Linked DNA regions of Homo sapiens: all the other regions are reported to be linked to region 2. The links are microRNA targets in miRTarBase. Many come from high-throughput screens and were not tested one by one. Region 2 holds a microRNA gene; each other region holds the end of a gene's coding sequence.
The links. Region 2 holds the annotated microRNA hsa-miR-454-3p (UAGUGCAAUAUUGCUUAUAGGGU, at 1,032-1,054, opposite strand). A microRNA usually pairs through its seed, bases 2 to 8, with sites in the 3' UTR of a target mRNA and lowers its output. Matches are read on the target gene's strand: a 7mer-m8 pairs with bases 2 to 8, a 7mer-A1 pairs with bases 2 to 7 and ends in A, and an 8mer does both.

Region 1 (3,352 bases), not on the chromosome of region 2:
GGGCAAGGGAGGTTGCAGTGAGCTGAGATGGCGCCACTGCACTCCAGCCTAGGTGACAGAGTGAGACTCTGTCTAAAAAAAAAAAAAAAAAAAAAAAAAGATCTGGAAGTTATCCTGAGGACAGTTATCCTGAAGCTGCTGAGGGATTTCAAGTAAGAGAGTGCTATCGCCAAACTTACGTTTTAGAGCTGTCACTCACTGTTGACTGTGCTGTGTGCAGAGGCGAAACTGAGGGAGGAGAAACCAAATTGGGAGGCCACTGTGAGAGATAATGGTGGCCAGGACTCAGGTGGTGATAATGGGAAACGCAGAGAAGTAGGTAGAGCCGAGAGATATTTAGATATTTAGGACAAAACTGGTTTCAGAGTGGATGTGTTTGGGGAGTGAGGTAGAGAGAGAGACCTGGGTGATTTCCAGGTTTCTGGCCTGTGCAGCACATGGATGGGAGTAACATTGCCAAGAAAGTGACCTCTGTAAGATGAGCAGGCTGAAGGGGAAGGAGCCACTCTTTCCTCCTCCCTTTTAACAAATCAGCACTCCCGGTGTCTGGCATGGGGTTTGTGAGTTTGGAGTGCTTGAGACGTGCCCGTGGTCTGGTCTAGCGATTGTATGTGTGATAAGCTTGGGATTCGGGCACACCTGGGTTTCAATCTGTGCCCCACTACTTAAAGGTACGGTTTCAGACTCATCACTGAAATTCCCAGGGCCTTGGTTTCTTCAGATGGTAGTAGCCCCACCTCATAGGGCTGTTATGAGGATTAATGAGGAAGGGCCTGTAAGGCTCAGCACCCAGGGCCACACTGTGGCTGGCTGGAAGCAGGCAGGCTGGAGGTCTGTGAGCTTATCAGCCACACACAGGTGGAGGCAGCCGAAGCTGAGGGGGAAATTAGCACATCTAGGGGTGAGGGTGAGGGTGAGGGGGGCAGAGAGTGAGGATGGGTGTGTGGGAGGGTGTGAGGGAAGAGGGAGGAAGCACAGAGCCTGGTGAGAGAGGTGGGGAGGTCAGGGATTAGGAGTTGGGGACTCGTGGGTTTTTCTGCCAAGCCCACCACCATGTGCTGAAATGCCCAGGTGGGTCTAGATTGTGGGATCAGTTGAATGAAAGACTTCTTTTCCCTGCTGCAGCTACTCAGCTGCTCATTTATTCATTCATACCCATTCACTCACTCATTCACACCCAGGGCCAGGGAGCTCCATCTGGTGGGGAGCCGTGGATACATGGCCACAGCTCAGGGTCGTAACTGCAACTAGAGATGTGTCCCAGGGCAGTTTGGGAGCTGGGGGCACTGATCCAGGAGGGGTAGGGAGGGGTCCAGGAAAACTTCCTGTTGGCCAGGAAGATGAAGAGGGTGGGGAGGCAAAGGTGTTTCCGGGCAAGGGCCCAAATTACAGCATGGGTGCCCAGAGGTAATGAAGGGGGGTTGGAGGTGGAGGGCACAATGGAGAGTGGGCCTGCTGCCCAACTCATATGGCTGGGGAGGCTGCTGTCTGAACCTGGGTGGCCCTGGAGACCTTGTCAGGAAGAGGAGACTTTACTCTGGAGCAGGAGGGAGTCACAGATGGCCCTAAACCAGAGAGGGGCATATACTATCTTTAAAGTGACCCCCCCGCCAAGCTGCAGCATGGAGGGGAGGTTGGAGGGAGCTGGCCAGGGCAGGGCTGTTGCAGGAGTTCAGGAGGGAGGCCCTGTGCAAGCTTAGTGCTGGAAAGGGGCATGAAACAGGCCAAGTTGATTCAGGAACTGACTAGGGGGAAGGTGCTGAGTCTGCAGGTGGTTCTGCCTGCCTGCTGGTTGAGGAATATTCCTGTTTGAGTCAGTGCTCACTGTTTTAAAGTCTTAATTTGAAAAACATCCTTGAGGTCAAGCTGAACTGAAACTGGCCTCCCAGGGGTCCTGGGACAGTACTGTAGAACACAGTATCCACACCCTGTACTGTCCACGAACCCTCCCGCTGGGACCCCTTCCCACATCCCCGAGCCCCCACCCCCGGTTCTTTCAAGCACTCTGCCAACATCCCAGACCTCACTTCTGCCCCAGGACCTTTCCCTCGACTGGGTCAATCTTCCAGGGAACAGCCAGGCCGCCTCTGCCTCCCCAGGGCCCGGTTTTTCGTGTGGCAGGCCAGAGGGCAGCCAGCCACACAGAGCACACCCCCAAGGAACAGCCAACCCTCTGCGACAGCCGCACTTTATTTGGAGTTTTCCACCTAAGCAGCTCCCAGCTGAGCTGCATGACATGTGCAAAAGTCCCCTAGAAAGCTGGGCCTCGCAGTGTGTAAAAAAGGCCCCCCATGGGGCAGAGCCGTGCAACCATTTTAAAAAAAGAGACAGTGAGAGAGAAATCAGGCCCCCTGGGAGCCTGGCTTGGGTGGAGTGCACATCGCTCAGGCCGGTCCATGTGCCAGGCCACTCCTGCTGGTTCGGGGGCTGTTTTCTTCTCTGATTGTGCTTTCCTTTCCAAGTCCTTAAAACTCTGGGGTTGTAGCCACCAGAGAGACCAGACCAAGTCCTCGGGGTCAGGAGGGTATCTGGCCGGCGGTGCAGTTTGAGGGTGACCTCACACACAGACACCCACAACACAATGCTCCCCCACTGCTCAGCCCCGCCAGAAACTCAGGGCTTCCCTGGCCTCGCAGCCCTCGCCAGCCCCTTGTGTCCCAGCCTCTGCCCCTGAGCCTGGCCCCAGTCGGCCCTCATGTCACATTCCCAGGGAGGGACACTGTCCTGACACAGACAAGGTCCTCCAACCCCTGGGGCGCGGTGGGGTGGGGAGGCTGGGCCTTCACTTCACCCCCAAGGCAGGTGTTTGTAGTGTCTGATTCTGTGCGTGTCTGGGTGTGGCACATTTGTGTGTGTGTGTGTGTGTGTGTAATGTGTGTGTGGCTGGAGGTGGGGGCTGAGGCTGGGGAGGCACTTTTGGGATTCAAGGGACCTTGACTTTGAAGGGGCTTCCAGGGACACTTTCGTCACCCCACTTGACAATGAGGATGTAGTCCCCTTTCTCCTTGACAGTGTAGGTGACATTGTACACCCGGTTCCCCATGTGCTTCACGTACACCTCCTCACAGGGGGTCTTGGGGCCGTGCACGCCCACCATCATCATGTTGGTGCCTGGAGAGGGAGGCAGAGGGACAGGCTCACACCAGGGAGTCCCCTACTGTGACCCACACCCTGCTCCCTGACGGCTTCTTGCTCACACCCCGGGAGACGCCCTCCCCCCGCCACCTGCCTGCTTTGCTGCAGTCCACGGTGAAGGAGTTCTTCTGGCCCACGAAGGCCTGGGACAGCCCAGGGCCCCGAGTCACCACCTTGCTGGCATCTGAGGAGAACTTGGGGATGGAGCTGTAGCTGG
Region 2 (3,000 bases):
CCAGGCTCGTCTTGATCTCCTGACCTTGTGATCCGCCCTCCTCGGCCTCCAAAAATGCTGGGATTACAGGTGTGAGCTACCACGCCCAGCCGAAAAATCATCTTAAATGTCTGCTCTGAACCCTTCATTTTATAAATGAGAAAATAGCAAAGTAACTTGCCTCTAGTTCTATTTCCATTACTGTTTTCTTATGTAGTTAGACAAAGTTATAGATGATATTTAAGCCATTAAGAGTCACACATGTGGAAAAAATGTAAATTCTTTTTTTTCTTTTTGAGACAGGGTCTTGCTTTGTTGCCCAGGCGAGTGCAGTGGCACAAATCACAGCTCACTGCAGCCTCAACCTCCTGGACTCAAGAGATTTGATTCTCCTGCCTAAGCCTCCTGAGTAGCTGGGACTACAGACGTGCACTACCAAACCCAGCTAATTTTTGTATTTTTTTGTAGAGACAAGGTCTCGCTATGTTACCCAGGCTGGACTTGAACTCCTGAGCTCAAACAATCTTCCCGCCTTAGCCTCTCAAAGTGCTGGAACTACAGGTGTCAGCCACCACACCCATCCAAAAATGTACATTCTTCACCTAAAATTAAAGTTTTTTTATGTTTTAAATTAATATCACTAAAGTTACAAAGCTAGTCAACTAAAAATTCCCTCTGAACACAACATGGTAGTATGGTACAGAAAAATAAAAGAATTCGGATACATGGTAGAAATTCTAGTCCTAGTATCACTAACCAGCTATGTGTCCCTAGGTTAAGTCCCTCATTTCTTTGGGTCTCTCCTATCAAATGAGTTGGAATCTAAGATCCTTTTCAATACTAAAATTCCATTATTTCTTTATACTACAAATAAACCCATTTGTCAAAAAGAAAAGTTACCTTCTTCTAATAAATTAAAAATTTACATTTAAGCCTCAGATTTTAATGTTTATAGTGAAATCTAGTTCCTTGTTTTCTTCCTAAAGATGACTTTTGCTTGTTTCTGCTACATACTTTCTGCAGCCTGCCCATTGTTCTTTCCAAACACCAAAACCCTATAAGCAATATTGCACTACTCAGAACTATTTACACAGCAGAGACAATATTGATAGGGTTCTAGGATCTGGTGATAAACAGAATTTTTTTTAGTTAGATGGCAGAAATTCACTAAGCAATTATGATAATCTAAAACTCATTAGTGTCTGATAAATCGCGCAAATTTGATTCTGATAAACATCATTCACAGCCCTTTCAGTTACAAATCAGCCTCCTGGAAGCCTTGGAAATCAGTGAGGTTATTGTTTAACTTTTTAGGGGCAATGGAATATTTAAAATAAAACTAGTGATTTTTGTAAAGCCCAAGATATTCGTATTTCAGAAACCAGTTTTCTCTAAAATCAGTAATAAAAATAAAGGGGAAAAGTTTTATACTGATCTGAAAAGTGGTATATAAAATACAAAATTAGGTGAAAAAAGTCTATGGAAATCATCATGAAAGCACCCCAAGGGAAACCAGGTTACATTCTGCCAGTTAGATTTCTGATTTTTTCCTCCTATTTTGGAATATTTGCATAATAATTACTGGTTGAGCATCCCTAATCTGAAAATTCAAAATCTGAAATGGTCCAATGAATTTTGGATTTTGGAGCATTTCAGATTTTGGAATTTTGGATTAGGGATGCTCAACCAGTTGTTTTGTTTGTTTGTTATTTTTTGAGACAGCGTCTCACTCTGTTGCCTAGGCTGGAGGGCAGTGGCGCAATCTCAGCTCACTGCAACCTCTGCCTCCAGGCTCAAGCAATTCTCATGCCTCAGCCTCCCGACTAGCTGGGACTACAGGCACACGCCACAACGCCTAGTAAATTTTTTGTATTTTTGGTAGAGATGGGGTTTCACCATTTTGCCCAGACTAGTCTTGACCTCCCGAGCTCAAGTGATCTGCCCGCCTCGGCCTCCTGAAGTGCTGGGATTACAGGCATGAGCCACCGCGCCCAGCCTGTTCTAGTCTAGTTTTCAATATGACCAGTTTAAGGCTTTAAGTAAGTGGCACAAGGTATTCCATACTACTCAACTATTAGGCAGCAAGGAGAAAAGAATATATTGCGGTTGTCACAATATACTGTGTGGTCCTCAGTTTTAAAACACTTGCTTTTTACAAACAACCCCTAGATTCTCATTGCCACCGTATGCTCTCCTACAAAGGACCAGTGCCCTTAAAGCTCTAAACACATCCTCTTATGAGAGACCTTATCTCAACAGCATTAAATTACATAAAGTGAAAAAAAGTATTTCAGTCTCACCTATGGTGGGCTAGGCATAGAGAAGAGTTGGTAGACAGGTGTGTTCTGGACTTACTAAACAGGCTTAGAAATGCATTTTCCGGCTGGGCGCAGTGGCTCACGCCTGTAATCCCAGCACTTTGGGAGGCTGAGGCGGGCGGAGCACGAGGTCAGGAGATTGAGACCATCCTGGCTAACACGGTGAAACCCCGTCTCTACTAAAAATTCAAAAAATTAGCTGGGCATGGTGGTGGATGCCTATAGTTCCAGATACTCGGGAGGCTGGAGCAGGAGAATGGCATAAACCTGGGAGGCAGAGGTTGCAGAGAGCCGAGATGGCGCCACTGCACTCCAGCCTGGGCAACAGAGCAAGACTCCGTCTCAAAAAAAAAAAAAAAAAAAAAAGAAATGCATTTTCCATAGAAACATTTTAAGGGAGAATTAAGTATCTTAATGGAACTAGTTTGGCTATAATCAAAAAACCTACTTTTATTTTTATTTTTAAATTTTTTTTGTTTTTGAGATGAGTGCTCACTATGTTGCCCAGGCTAGTCTCGAAATCCTGAGCTCACGTAATCTGCCCGCCTTGGCCTCCCAAAGTGCTAGGATTACAGGTGTCAGCCACTGCACCCGGCCAGAATCTACTTTTTGTACATTTTCTTCTCTTCAATGTACATTTAGAAACACCTTTATCTACTCTCCTTTTACTTTGTTCATGGCTTTGGTTTACCATCTACTGTAT
Region 3 (3,352 bases), not on the chromosome of region 2:
CAGTACATGCCTGTTGAAAGGTGGACACATGGGTGTATGTTCAACAAAAAGTAGATAGATAATGCCTTAAACATTGGATTGCATCTCTGTTAGGACAGTTCTCCACATTAGCACTCAAAGGGTATCATAGACTATCATAGATATATGGTTCTTTCATGATCATTCTCAAAAGCCCCATTTCAATCTGAAATTCAGATTGGGGATATTTTGGCACTGTTAACAGACAGAACTGGAACAAGACCCACCACACTCTCCTGACTCTTCCTTCAATAACCTTTCAATATTTCTCACTCTTTCTTTCTTTCTTTTTTTTTCCATTTCAGCTGAAATTCTGAACAGCAGAGTTATGGAGTATCAGAATCTTTCCATGGAAACCTCCATATGGCCTTTCTATATATATTCTCGTATGTCTTATTCTACCAACACAACAATAAGCGTGTTGCAGTCAATGTATTAAGCAAAGCAAACCTGCCAGCCAGCAAATTCAAATAAAAAATAAAGCATTAAAAATCAATGGAGATGTTAAAACAACACAAATAGAAAACTAGTAACTACCATCCATCCTATTTGAATTATCAAGCAGAACATGACCATAAAATTTGGTAACTTGTTACATTACTCTTTGTGATTTTCTAATAACCATGCTAAGTGTATTTCCACAGTGAGCTTTTGGCTTACTATATACATTCTTGGTGGATAAATTGTTCATCTGTTTTTGAAGTGTTACCTTACTATTTTGTTTACAAGATAGTCTATTGGGTTGATTCAGGATGTAACAAATATATTCAGTACCATTTCTTGTGTTGTATTGTGTTGTGCTGTGTTAGGTTTTTACATACTGTAGTGTTTTGCTGTATATGTGTGGTGTTTGATTTCAACTAAAGTGTTATTAGTGGGGAACAGAAGTATATGTGCTTAAGAACATGACAGGTTCATGCAAATATGCTCTCTTTCTTTAGAATATTTCTGTAGGTTTCTTGGGACTGACATTTAAAACGCCTCACTTTTGAATGTGCACAAAACCTGCTCATTAACATGCATGTGTATAATTTGTACCTGCAGATCTGATGTTGCATAATACAATCAAATTACTAGATTTTTTAAAGAGAGAAATAATTACCTGCACAAAGCAGAGAACTTCATAAAACATTAACCCCTAATTCACTCTTCTTAAATAGCTTGGCAAATAAGACTTTACCTTTAAATGAATTTCTCAGCATTTATACTAAAAATTATGTAAAGTGCTCATTAGATTTTTTGTGTGTGTGGCTTGAGAATCCCATCTCCTAAATTGAGTGTCTAAAACTGAGCCATTTGTCATCTTCAGCTGAGAAACTGGTACTTGGGAGCTTAAAAATATGCTAATTACAAGTTATAAATCAAACGGAGAGATGGGGGCATGGAGATAGTTTTTACGTACTGGAGGAAAGTGTGTAAAACCATGGCAATGTCACCTTTTACACAAATGCCATTTTCCAAATGCAAATGGCTCATGCTCTTTAGACTACTCTTTGAATAACAAGTAAGATGCAATCTAGCAAAAGTCAGTCAGGGTGAAAGAGAATTGGTTGCAAATGAGGACTTCCCTCCCCAAATGGACAGTCTTCTCTGTTGATCACAGAGGGAGCCTGAGTACAGGCTTGGAGAAATGGCTAGGACAGGGAACAGGGAAGCACTTACAATTATTCCTTGATTTATTCAAAAGAACTGGGAAAGATGGTTGTAGTTGTCTTTAGCTTCGGTTCAACTGAGTTTCGTTTTGTTAAACAGTTCAGTGAAGGAGAAAGCACCTGTGATATATGGCAAGTGTCCCCCTGCCCAAACTTTAACATCAGACCCTCTCACATCATAACCAAGCCTCTTTTATGCTTGTTTGGATTCGTTTGCCTTTATATATGTTTGAAAATGACAATAGAAAGGGTTTTATCACCCTTTGAATGAGACAGAGTGGCTATACTCCACAGAGCTCAGCTGAGTTCACATTACTAATATTTATGAAAGAATTTTACAACCAAATAATTCCTGTGGTGTGTGACATATCTCATCCACTCTACTCATTTATTAATGTTATTATACAGTGGTGGAAACACATGACATTTTACATCAAGTAATAGATTTAATATTTTCTAGTAAATAGGCGCTCTTCCACCAGAAAGTATAAAACCATCATATACATATATATATATATATATAATGGTTTTTCTCCTTCATGAAAATGACAAGTAAAAAGCAAATCTGATTGAGGATACCTTAAGCTGGCTAGAAGTGTTTGAATCACAGAACAATGGAATTAGCAAAATCCTTTTTATAGTTGATGGAACTGAATCCAGGGGCATATGACTTGCCCAAGGCTACCTTAGCCATTGTGGGACCCAGAAATATCTCCTGCTTCCCATTGTTCCTCCTTTTCACATTGTTTTTGCTTCAGAACATTTGATGCTCTCTTCCAAAGCAGACCCATTTGGCTCAGAATATAAGAGAGCAAAATTAGCTTTCTGGGAATTGATACTCTGTTGATCTTAATTATCCATCCAAATCCTGATCAACAGTGCTTTCTAAACAGCCTTGCTTGTATTGAGTCATTGTCAGCTGTTGACAATGTTGCGTGGAATTAGAGATCAAGAGTTGTCCTGACCTTTACCTATGGACTCTTTGAACCAGTTAATTTCTATTTCTGAAATCTTAACATTGCTATAGAAGAAAGTAGTGTATGCCTTTTTGAAATTCATCATGTATGGAACTGAGTTTTGTATGATCCGTGCCAGTGCCTCTCCAGAAGGGCAGATCTGATTACATGAATCCAGGAGGGATGCACCTGAGCTAGTCTGGATATATTCCTTAAAGGAGACAAGAACTTTTTTGTGCAAAATGAACTTTTGTGTAGTTTGACATCTGCATGCAGTGAACTGTCTCACTTAACTTTTTCAACTTTGGGCAAAGATATACATAAACCATAGATAATAGACCTACAGTACAGCTGTTTTCATGTTGCGTTAAGCACTGGAAGACATTAACAATGACTTACCTTAAAGTAAAAGGTTCCGTGAGGGGTATTTAGGGCCACTGTATTTTTGGTGCCACAATTTTCTACATTGTTGGCATTTTAAAAGTTGTTTTCTAAATGAACTTAAAGAAAGAAAGCTCAAAGCCCTAAAGTTTTGATCAAATTCAATAGAGTTTTCAGAAAAAAATACAATTTTAAGATAGCACTCTTTAAACTAGATGTGCAATGACTTATTCAAATTATCTTTATTCAAGAAAAGAGAAAAGAAGAAAGATAAGTCATTAGACTATAAATTTCCATTTAAAAAGACAAGTCACAAAACTAATCAGTGACTCTAAACAAAAATTT

Region 1: the mRNA of FLNC is a reported target of hsa-miR-454-3p. The part of its 3' UTR that is shown has no 7-base or 8-base seed match.
Region 3: miRTarBase lists MBNL3 as a target of hsa-miR-454-3p. The part of its 3' UTR that is shown has no 7-base or 8-base seed match.

The regions. Positions count from the first base shown.
Region 1 is chr7:128,858,095-128,861,446 of GRCh38, reverse strand. It overlaps FLNC (filamin C), which reads right to left. Exons shown (of 48, transcript NM_001458.5): 47 at 3,230-3,352; 48 at 2,175-3,111. The coding sequence ends at 2,924. The region is part of intron 1 of FLNC-AS1 (FLNC antisense RNA 1); the gene reads left to right. Among named protein-coding and RNA genes, the nearest start is that of FLNC-AS1, 2.9 kb to the left of the region's middle. RefSeq lists an enhancer at 2,754-3,254.
Region 2 is chr17:59,136,756-59,139,755 of GRCh38, forward strand. MIR454 (microRNA 454) reads right to left here and starts at 1,117; the gene lies at 1,003-1,117. The region is part of intron 1 of SKA2 (spindle and kinetochore associated complex subunit 2); the gene reads right to left.
Region 3 is chrX:132,376,649-132,380,000 of GRCh38, reverse strand. MBNL3 (muscleblind like splicing regulator 3) reads left to right here. Exons shown (of 9, transcript NM_001386889.1): 9 at 324-3,352. The coding sequence ends at 335. All of the region lies in intron 2 of RAP2C-AS1 (RAP2C antisense RNA 1), which reads right to left. Among named protein-coding and RNA genes, the nearest start is that of MBNL3, 110 kb to the left of the region's middle.